Homo sapiens: one gene and its partner. The protein of the gene in region 1 interacts with the protein of each later gene in a pairwise test. Each region holds a gene or a part of one and is shown in the gene's direction. Other genes may lie near its edges.

Evidence for each region.
Region 2: the proteins of ZBTB21 (region 1) and ABTB1 interact in binary tests that used the Homo sapiens proteins (3 or more experiments, as listed by UniProt).

What each region holds. Positions count from the first base shown.
Region 1 is NC_000021.9:42,008,223-42,011,966, reverse strand, and holds the start of ZBTB21 (zinc finger and BTB domain-containing protein 21), read left to right. Parts: upstream 1-1,606; 5' UTR 1,607-1,715; intron 1,716-2,369; exon of another isoform or gene 2,370-3,744. UniProt on the Homo sapiens protein: Acts as a transcription repressor.
Region 2 is NC_000003.12:127,675,817-127,679,560, forward strand, and holds part of ABTB1 (ankyrin repeat and BTB/POZ domain-containing protein 1), read left to right. Parts: intron 1-153; coding exon 154-298; intron 299-455; coding exon 456-615; intron 616-719; coding exon 720-765; intron 766-1,150; coding exon 1,151-1,267; intron 1,268-1,351; coding exon 1,352-1,470; intron 1,471-1,648; coding exon 1,649-1,747; intron 1,748-1,859; coding exon 1,860-2,027; intron 2,028-3,744. UniProt on the Homo sapiens protein: May act as a mediator of the PTEN growth-suppressive signaling pathway. May play a role in developmental processes.

The sequences.
Region 1 (3,744 bases):
CATTGGGAGGCTGAGGCGGGTGGATTGCTTCAGACCAGGAGTTTGAAACCAGCCTGAGCAACATGGTGAAACTCCATCTCTACCAAAAATACAAAAATCAGCTAGGTGTGACGGATGCACCTATAGTCCCAGCTACTGCCGAGGCTGAGACGGGAGGATGGCTTGAGCCAGGGAGTGGAGGCTGCAGTGAGCTGAGATCATGCCACTGCACTCCAGCCTGGGACTGACAGAGACTCCATCTCAGGAAAAAAAAAAAAAAATTTAAAGTGTTTTAAAGTTGTAGGAGAAAATTTTTAGGTGCAAGATTCTTTATGTAAGACTAAGAGTCCTCTTAAAATTAGTCAAACTAATAATCTACAACAGAGCTGTTAATTTGGCAACAAATTTTTAATTTGTATCAATCTAATGTCTGTCTTTCACATACTTCCAAACATTACATAAATTATTTTACCTAGTGCATACAACTTTCAAAAACTGTATTTGGCAATTAACAGACCCCTGACAATTATTAACAGGGGTTTTACATCCCGGAGTTTGAGTGTCTGCGGGAGAACCGTCCCTGCAGGAGGCACTCCCCCTCCACCTGCGACCCGGGCTGGGAGAACGCGCGGAGGGCTCCCTTGAGCGGTCTCCGCCAGCGAGGCTTTCCTCCCGGTCGGTGTTGACAGTGTGGCATTTCTGTTATCTAATTTCTGGTTTTGACTGAAAGCGAAGTGAGTTTTCTCATCAGTGGAGTTGTAATATTTCTGCAAAAAAAAAAAAGATCACAGCCCTCCGATGAGCCGGGCACTATGCGAAGTCTCCGGCTGCCTGCGGGCCGCTGTGGACGCCCCGGCGGGGGTCAGGACCGACCCCCATCTGCGCGGCGAACGAGCCCGGACGCCCTGGCCGCGGCCGCCGGGTCCCCGCCCAGGGGCCAGGTGGCCAGGTTGCGTCGGGAGGAGGAAATGGAAGCGCTCTGAGCGACTAGCGAGCGGCAGGAGCCGCCTCCCGCGGGCTTTCCTCGCGGGCCGGGAGCGTCTGCCGCCGACCCGAGGACCGCAGGGCCCCGCTCGCCGCCCGCGCCCGTCAGAAAGCCGCGCGTCGCTCCCGTCGCTGTCGGGGTCGTCGGCTCGGGGAGTCGCCCGCCGTCCACCGGTGAACGGGAGCGCGTCCTCCCCTCCGAGGGACTAAGCGCTCGCGCCACGCATCCCGCCGCGCCGGAAGCGGGGACTACTGGCGGCCCAGCTGGGCAGGACCGCGGCCGAATGACCCGGGGCGACCCCGCAGCAAGGGCGCCTCCGGCAGGCGGCAAAGTCCCCTGAGAATCGGCGCGCTCCTCGCCGCGACGGACTCCACCCGGCCGGGGCGCTCAGCCTCCTCGCCGTGGCCCCCAGCCCGGCCGCCTCCCCTAACGGCCGCCGCAGGCTCCCCTCATGGACCGAGAGCGCGGGCTTGCAGCGCGGCAGCGTCCGTTCGGCGCGCGGCTCCGGGCAGGCCCGCCCTCCCCCGTCCCCCTGCGCCGCGAGGCCCCCCCCCCGCCCCGCCCTCCGGCGCCCGGCGCCCAATCAGAGTGCCGCGCACGTGACGAGCGATGCCTGCGATGACCTCATCCCTGGTGTGGGATGACGTCAAATTCAAGATGGATGGAATCACAGCGGCAGCGGCGGCTGCGGCGCGCGCGAGCCGAGTGTGAGCGGAAAGGGGCCCGGCGTCTGCCTCGAGACTGAAGACCGGTGAGTAACTGTCACGCCCCTAGCTCTAGGAGAACTGCGGGGCTCCTTGGGAGGCTACAGCCTCCCCGCAAAACGCGGCCTTTCCTGACGTAACTCTGAGGTGATTTCTCTCCTCTTTTTTCTCCACCAGCGGGTTGCGGGCTCCGAGCGCTTCTGCGCGTGCGCGGGACCTGGGCGCTCACCGAGCATGTCCCGGGTTCCCACGTAGCCGATTGTACCTTCACACTGCGCACGCTCCCTGCCAGCACTTGGCCTCGCCCTCGCGAATGCGCATGCTCCATTCCCTCACGGGCTTCACTCTTCACCCTGGCCGAGCTGCCCCTGGGGTAGGGGACACGCCTGGCCCAGGCGCGCGCCCCTCGCGCGGAGCGGTTGAAACGCCTCGTGGAGAAGGGCGCGTTCTCCTGTTCCGGGCAGGGGTTGGGGGCCGGCGGCCCGGGCCGCGGGGTGTGCGCGGAAGCTGGCCGGCGGCCTTGGGGACCCCGCACCTGCCGCGACCCGCCGCTCCCTTCACGGTCCGGGACCTAGCCCCGCCGCCCCGTCCTCGGCCCGGTGGCCGGAGCGTGACCGCTCGGTGCCCGCTGGACGCTCCCTCCCCGCCCCCGGCCCCTCCCGCGGACGCCTGGACCTCACAGCGCGTTTTTTTTCCTCCAGAGCCCCCGCAGACCTTGTCTGGGACTTCCCGGCGGTCCCGCAGAGCATAGCACCCTCCGCCGGCCAGGAGCCCTGCTGCTCGGCCGGCGACCGTCTCCCCGCTTGGAGGAGCCCCCTTCCCCCCGTCCGAGGTCCGCGGCTGGAGGGGCAGGGAGTCAAGACGCCACCCGTGCCGGCCTTAGAGACGCCCGCGGCAGCCCCGCCACATCTCTTCCCGGCTTTTCGGGAACACGCCCCGTAGTCCATCCTCAGCGGCTCCTGCTTTTCCATCCCAGCACACCGCTGGGGGCTCGCACTCTGCCCCCGGTTGCTATGCGGTCCCAGCCACGAGGGCTCTGCGGTTCGGGAGAATTCCGCAAGAGCGCGCGTTCGGAGGCGGGGTGTTTTTAGACAGGTGCCCCGGTGGGATTGCCTGACCGAGAGGACGGGGAAAGTTAGACTTCACACGGCCTGGGGTTTTTCCTTTCGTGCAAGCGCTCACAGCCCTGGCACCGAGCCTCCGAGGGCACGCGTGTGTTACAAAATAGTCCAGCGATTGTTCACACGATGACCCTGAGTCCTCAATTAAGCAGCTTACATTACGGTCCTCATACCTTGTTTAAGAAGACAAGAAAGTGGGTTAATCCATTTTAGAAAGATTTCTCATGGAAAATTATCTTTTAAAGCTTTCCTCGTGTACTTGGAGTAAATGATGATCTCTAAGGACTAGTAGTCATTAAGTTTAAATTTAAGCACCCCTAAATATTGATGTTAAAAAGAAAGTCAAAATTTGAAGTGCTGGTTTACTTAAAAGTAACTTTTTGTTTATTTTTCCTTTTTAACACTTTATTGAAAGTATAATGTGCTTCATTCTGTTGAAATAGAAGTTGAAGAAGATATAACCCCTGCCCTCGAGGAACTTACACTGTTGAATATTAGATGTGTACACTCTGAAGGAAAAATTGTAAATAACAAAATTGGGGTTAAGTTAAGAAGGTCTCTCGATGGAAATGAGATAATTAAAGGGACAATTTTTTCTTTTCTTTTCTTTTTTTCTTTTTTTTTTTTTTTTTTTTTTGACAGAGTTTCACTCTTGTTGCCCCAGGCTGGAGTACAATGGCGTGATCTTGGCTCACTGCAACCTCCGCCTCCCTGGTTTTGCAACCTCCGCCTCCCTGGTTCAAGCGATTCTCCTGCCTCAGCCTCCTGAGTAGCCGGGATTACAGGCTTCCGCCACATCGCCCAGCTAATTTTTTTTTTTTTTTTTTTTTTTTTTGTAGAGACGGGGTTTCATCCTGTTGACCAGGATGGCCTTGAGATCTCCTGACCTCGTGATCCACCCCACTTGGTCTCCCAAAGTGCTGGGATTACAGGCATGAGCCACTGCGCCCAGCCG
Region 2 (3,744 bases), on another chromosome or scaffold:
GGGTGTTGGGGTCAGAGTGGGCCCAGGGTAATTTGGGAAGGCATCGCCAGAGATTCGGAGCCCCATGTGTGGGAAGGTGGGGAGGAGGGACAGGGAGATTAGAATTTCCCCCAGGCCCCTTCCCTGCTAACTGGTGAGCCCTGCCTCCCCCAGGAGCCCGCTGCGAGGCCAACACCTTCGATGGTGAGCGCTGCCTCTATGGGGCACTGAGTGACCCCATCCGCCGGGCTCTACGCGATTACAAGCAGGTCACGGCTTCCTGCAGGAGGCGGGATTACTATGACGACTTCTTGCAGCGGTGAGCCAGGGCACACGAGGGGTGCAGCATGGGGTGCGGTGGCCCTGGTGGGTGTGGCGAGTCTGCTCTGACTGTGGCCTGCACTGGGTTCTGAGTGCTCCGAGGAATGGGGTGGGGCTGTGCCAAGTATCCTCCCTCCTGGCTTGTCCCTCCCCAGGCTTCTAGAGCAGGGCATCCACAGTGACGTGGTCTTTGTAGTACACGGGAAGCCATTCCGGGTGCATCGCTGCGTCCTGGGTGCACGTAGTGCCTACTTTGCCAACATGCTGGACACCAAATGGAAGGGCAAGAGTGTCGTGGTTCTCAGGCACCCACTGGTATGTCCCTTCAGGGTGGCAGAGGGGCATGAACTGTCCAGGAACAGCAGGAGGTTGTGCTGGGTGGCTGCCTCTGACATTACTTTCTGGTTTTCTGCCCACAGATCAACCCCGTGGCCTTTGGGGCCCTGCTGCAGTACCTGTACACAGGTGACCCCCTGGGTCCAGGGTAGGAGGAGAGGGAGTGGGCCGTCCTTCTGGACAGCAGTACACCTAGGTGTGGCTGGGCTGACCTTTCACCTCTAGACACTTCATGGTCCCCCCGGGGTGGTTCCAGCTGCCTCTCGGGTTGGGTTGCAAGAGAGAGGACTAGTGTGCCTGCTCAGGAAGAGCTTGTCCCACCCACATGCTGAGGCCCTCCCATCTGTTCCCTGGGGCCTGTAGAACAGCTTTTGATGGGGAAACCATGGTGGCAAGTGGGCCCAGGAGTCCTAGTCCTGCAGCCAGGTGGCCAGGTGGGAGGGGATCACCCTTTTTCTGTGGGCCTGATGACAGCTGAGGTCCCGCAGGCCCTCATCCTCCCCACTGCCCCCAGGCCGCCTGGACATTGGCGTAGAGCATGTGAGTGACTGTGAGCGCCTGGCCAAGCAATGCCAGCTGTGGGACCTGCTCAGCGACCTGGAGGCCAAGTGCGAGAAGGTGTCTGAGTTTGGTGCGAGCAGGGTTTGGGGCCCGGGGCCATGGGTGCGGCCTGGCAGGGCTGGCCTGGCTCCCTGAAGTTGTTCTTCCCCTGTAGTGGCGTCTAAGCCAGGCACGTGTGTGAAGGTGCTGACCATCGAGCCCCCACCTGCAGACCCCCGCCTCCGGGAGGACATGGCGCTGCTGGCCGATTGTGCCCTGCCCCCCGAGCTCCGAGTAAGTGCGGGGCTGGTGGGCAGGAAGGGCGTTTTGGGATGGCAGGCCGTGACAGGCAGCCCAGATACTTGGGCTCAATTCCTTGTGTGGTCCTGGACCAGTTACTTCCCTTTTCTGAACCTAGTCGTTCACTTCTGTGAACAACTGCTCTGATGGGGTCACCTCTTCTGTACCCCAGGGTGATCTTTGGGAGCTGCCCTTCCCTTGTCCTGACGGCTTCAACAGCTGCCCTGACATCTGCTTCCGAGTGGCTGGCTGCAGCTTCCTCTGCCACAAGGTGCCTGTGCCCTCCTGTTGCCCCTGGCCCCAGCCCGTTGCCCTGAGCCCCCGTCTAGCTCCTCAGGAGACAGACCCTGGCCCTCACACTTCCTGAGCCCGGCCTCCCCCAGGCCTTTTTCTGTGGCCGCAGTGACTACTTCCGAGCCCTGCTGGATGACCACTTCCGAGAGAGCGAGGAGCCAGCGACCTCAGGGGGCCCCCCAGCCGTCACCCTGCATGGCATCTCACCCGACGTCTTCACTCACGTGCTCTACTACATGTACAGCGACCACACTGAGGTGGGGGCTCAGGCAGAGCTGGGGATGGCACACAACCTGTGCTGCCGTGGGCTGAGAGGGAGCGCCAGGGCCCTGGGGGTCTGTGGAAGGGCCCAGCTGGCCCCATGGTTGACGTTTTGAGAAGGCTGGAGGGGAAGGCTGTGGGACTTTGGATTTTTCTTTCAGGTAGAGGAAGCCTTGTTGGGCTCCAGAGAGAGGATGAGTGATGAGCCTGTGTCACAGACACTCCACACTTGTCAGCCACTTGGGATCCTCAGCTTCTCTAGCAGGAGGGTGGAGGGTGGGTGGGGACAGCCTCCTCTCTGTGGTGCTGCAGATCCCTGGGGTTCTGGGTTCCCAGTCTCCTCTTCCCTTGCTGCCTGCCTCTGTCTCCAGCTGCCCCAAGGTGTCCGTAAGCCAAGGCTGCAGGGCAGCAGCAGAGTGCTGAAGGTTTGCTCTGCCAGGGTGTGTGAGAGAGAGAGAGAGTGTGTGTGTGCGTGCGCGTGCGCGCGCACTATAAAGCAATCCCCATATCTGGTGGCTTAAAGAAGAGGGGAGTTTGTTTCTCCTTCACTTCTGACTGAGGTGGGTGCCCCAGGGCAAGTGGCTTGCGGAAGATCAGGTCATCCCTCCATCTTGCCCCTGTATGCCTAAGGGTGAAGGTCAAAAACCTTTTCTCTGAAGGTGAGTGTTTCAGGTTCTGTGGGCCATATGGCCCTGTTGTAGCTACTCAACTCTGTAGCGCAAAGGTAGCCAGAGACAGTACAGAGATGAGTGGGTGAGGCTGCATTCCAATAAAACTTTACTTGCACAAACAGGCTGGATTTGGTCCACAGGCCGTAGCTTACCCATCCTGCCTGGGGCATCGCGTTTGGCCATGGAGATTGGGTCCTAGGCAAACTCATGCTCTAGGAGGAAGAGGAAGGCAGGGCAAGCAATGCTGTTTTTGTAGAAGCCACCGGAAATTGCACCACTTCTCATGTTCCCCTGGAGAGAACTTCGTGCCTACCTGCCAACAAGGGAGGCTTGGAAAGTCATTCTGTGGCCAGGGCCCTGTTTTGTGGGGGAAGGGGAGGAAGCATGCTGGGAGACAGAGGGCAGTCCCTACTGCTGCTCTATCTCCAGTGGCAGCTCCCTTGTCCATCCCTCCGCGCGGCCTGACAGCCCCTCAGCCTCCATCTTTCCCACCCCCTCTACTGGGCATCTCCTGCAGCTCAGCCCAGCTCTCTGGCCCCTGTAGCAGGGGTTACCTTTGCCCACCCTGGAGAAGCTCCCTCTTCAAGGAGCCTCGCCACCCAAAGGGCACCTTGTCTCAGAGTGTGGCTTGGGCTCTTAACCTGGGTTGATACTGGTTGAGCTGTGTGACACTGGGTGAGCTTTGTGATCTTGGGCCAGTTACTTAACTGCTCTGTGCCTCTAGAACATGGGGATAGCTCTCGTCGTCACTTCCTAAGGCCTTGTGCAGATGCATGGGTTACCCAGGTAAAGGAGGTGGCATGGCACATGGCACATGGCTTGTAATGTGGTCGCAGAGCTCCCCTTGTCTCTGTCTGCAGCTTGCTCCCTGTGCCACCCAGGCTCTGGCCTGAATCTGAGGGCTTCAGTCTTATCCAGCACAGGATGTATCTGTAGGTGGGCTCTGTGTCCCCACAGCCTCTTGAGAGGGAGGGAGCTGGTAGATAGTCTCCCACCCCTGGCAGAGTCCCTGCATAGGTCTTGACTAGCTGCCTCTGTCCCA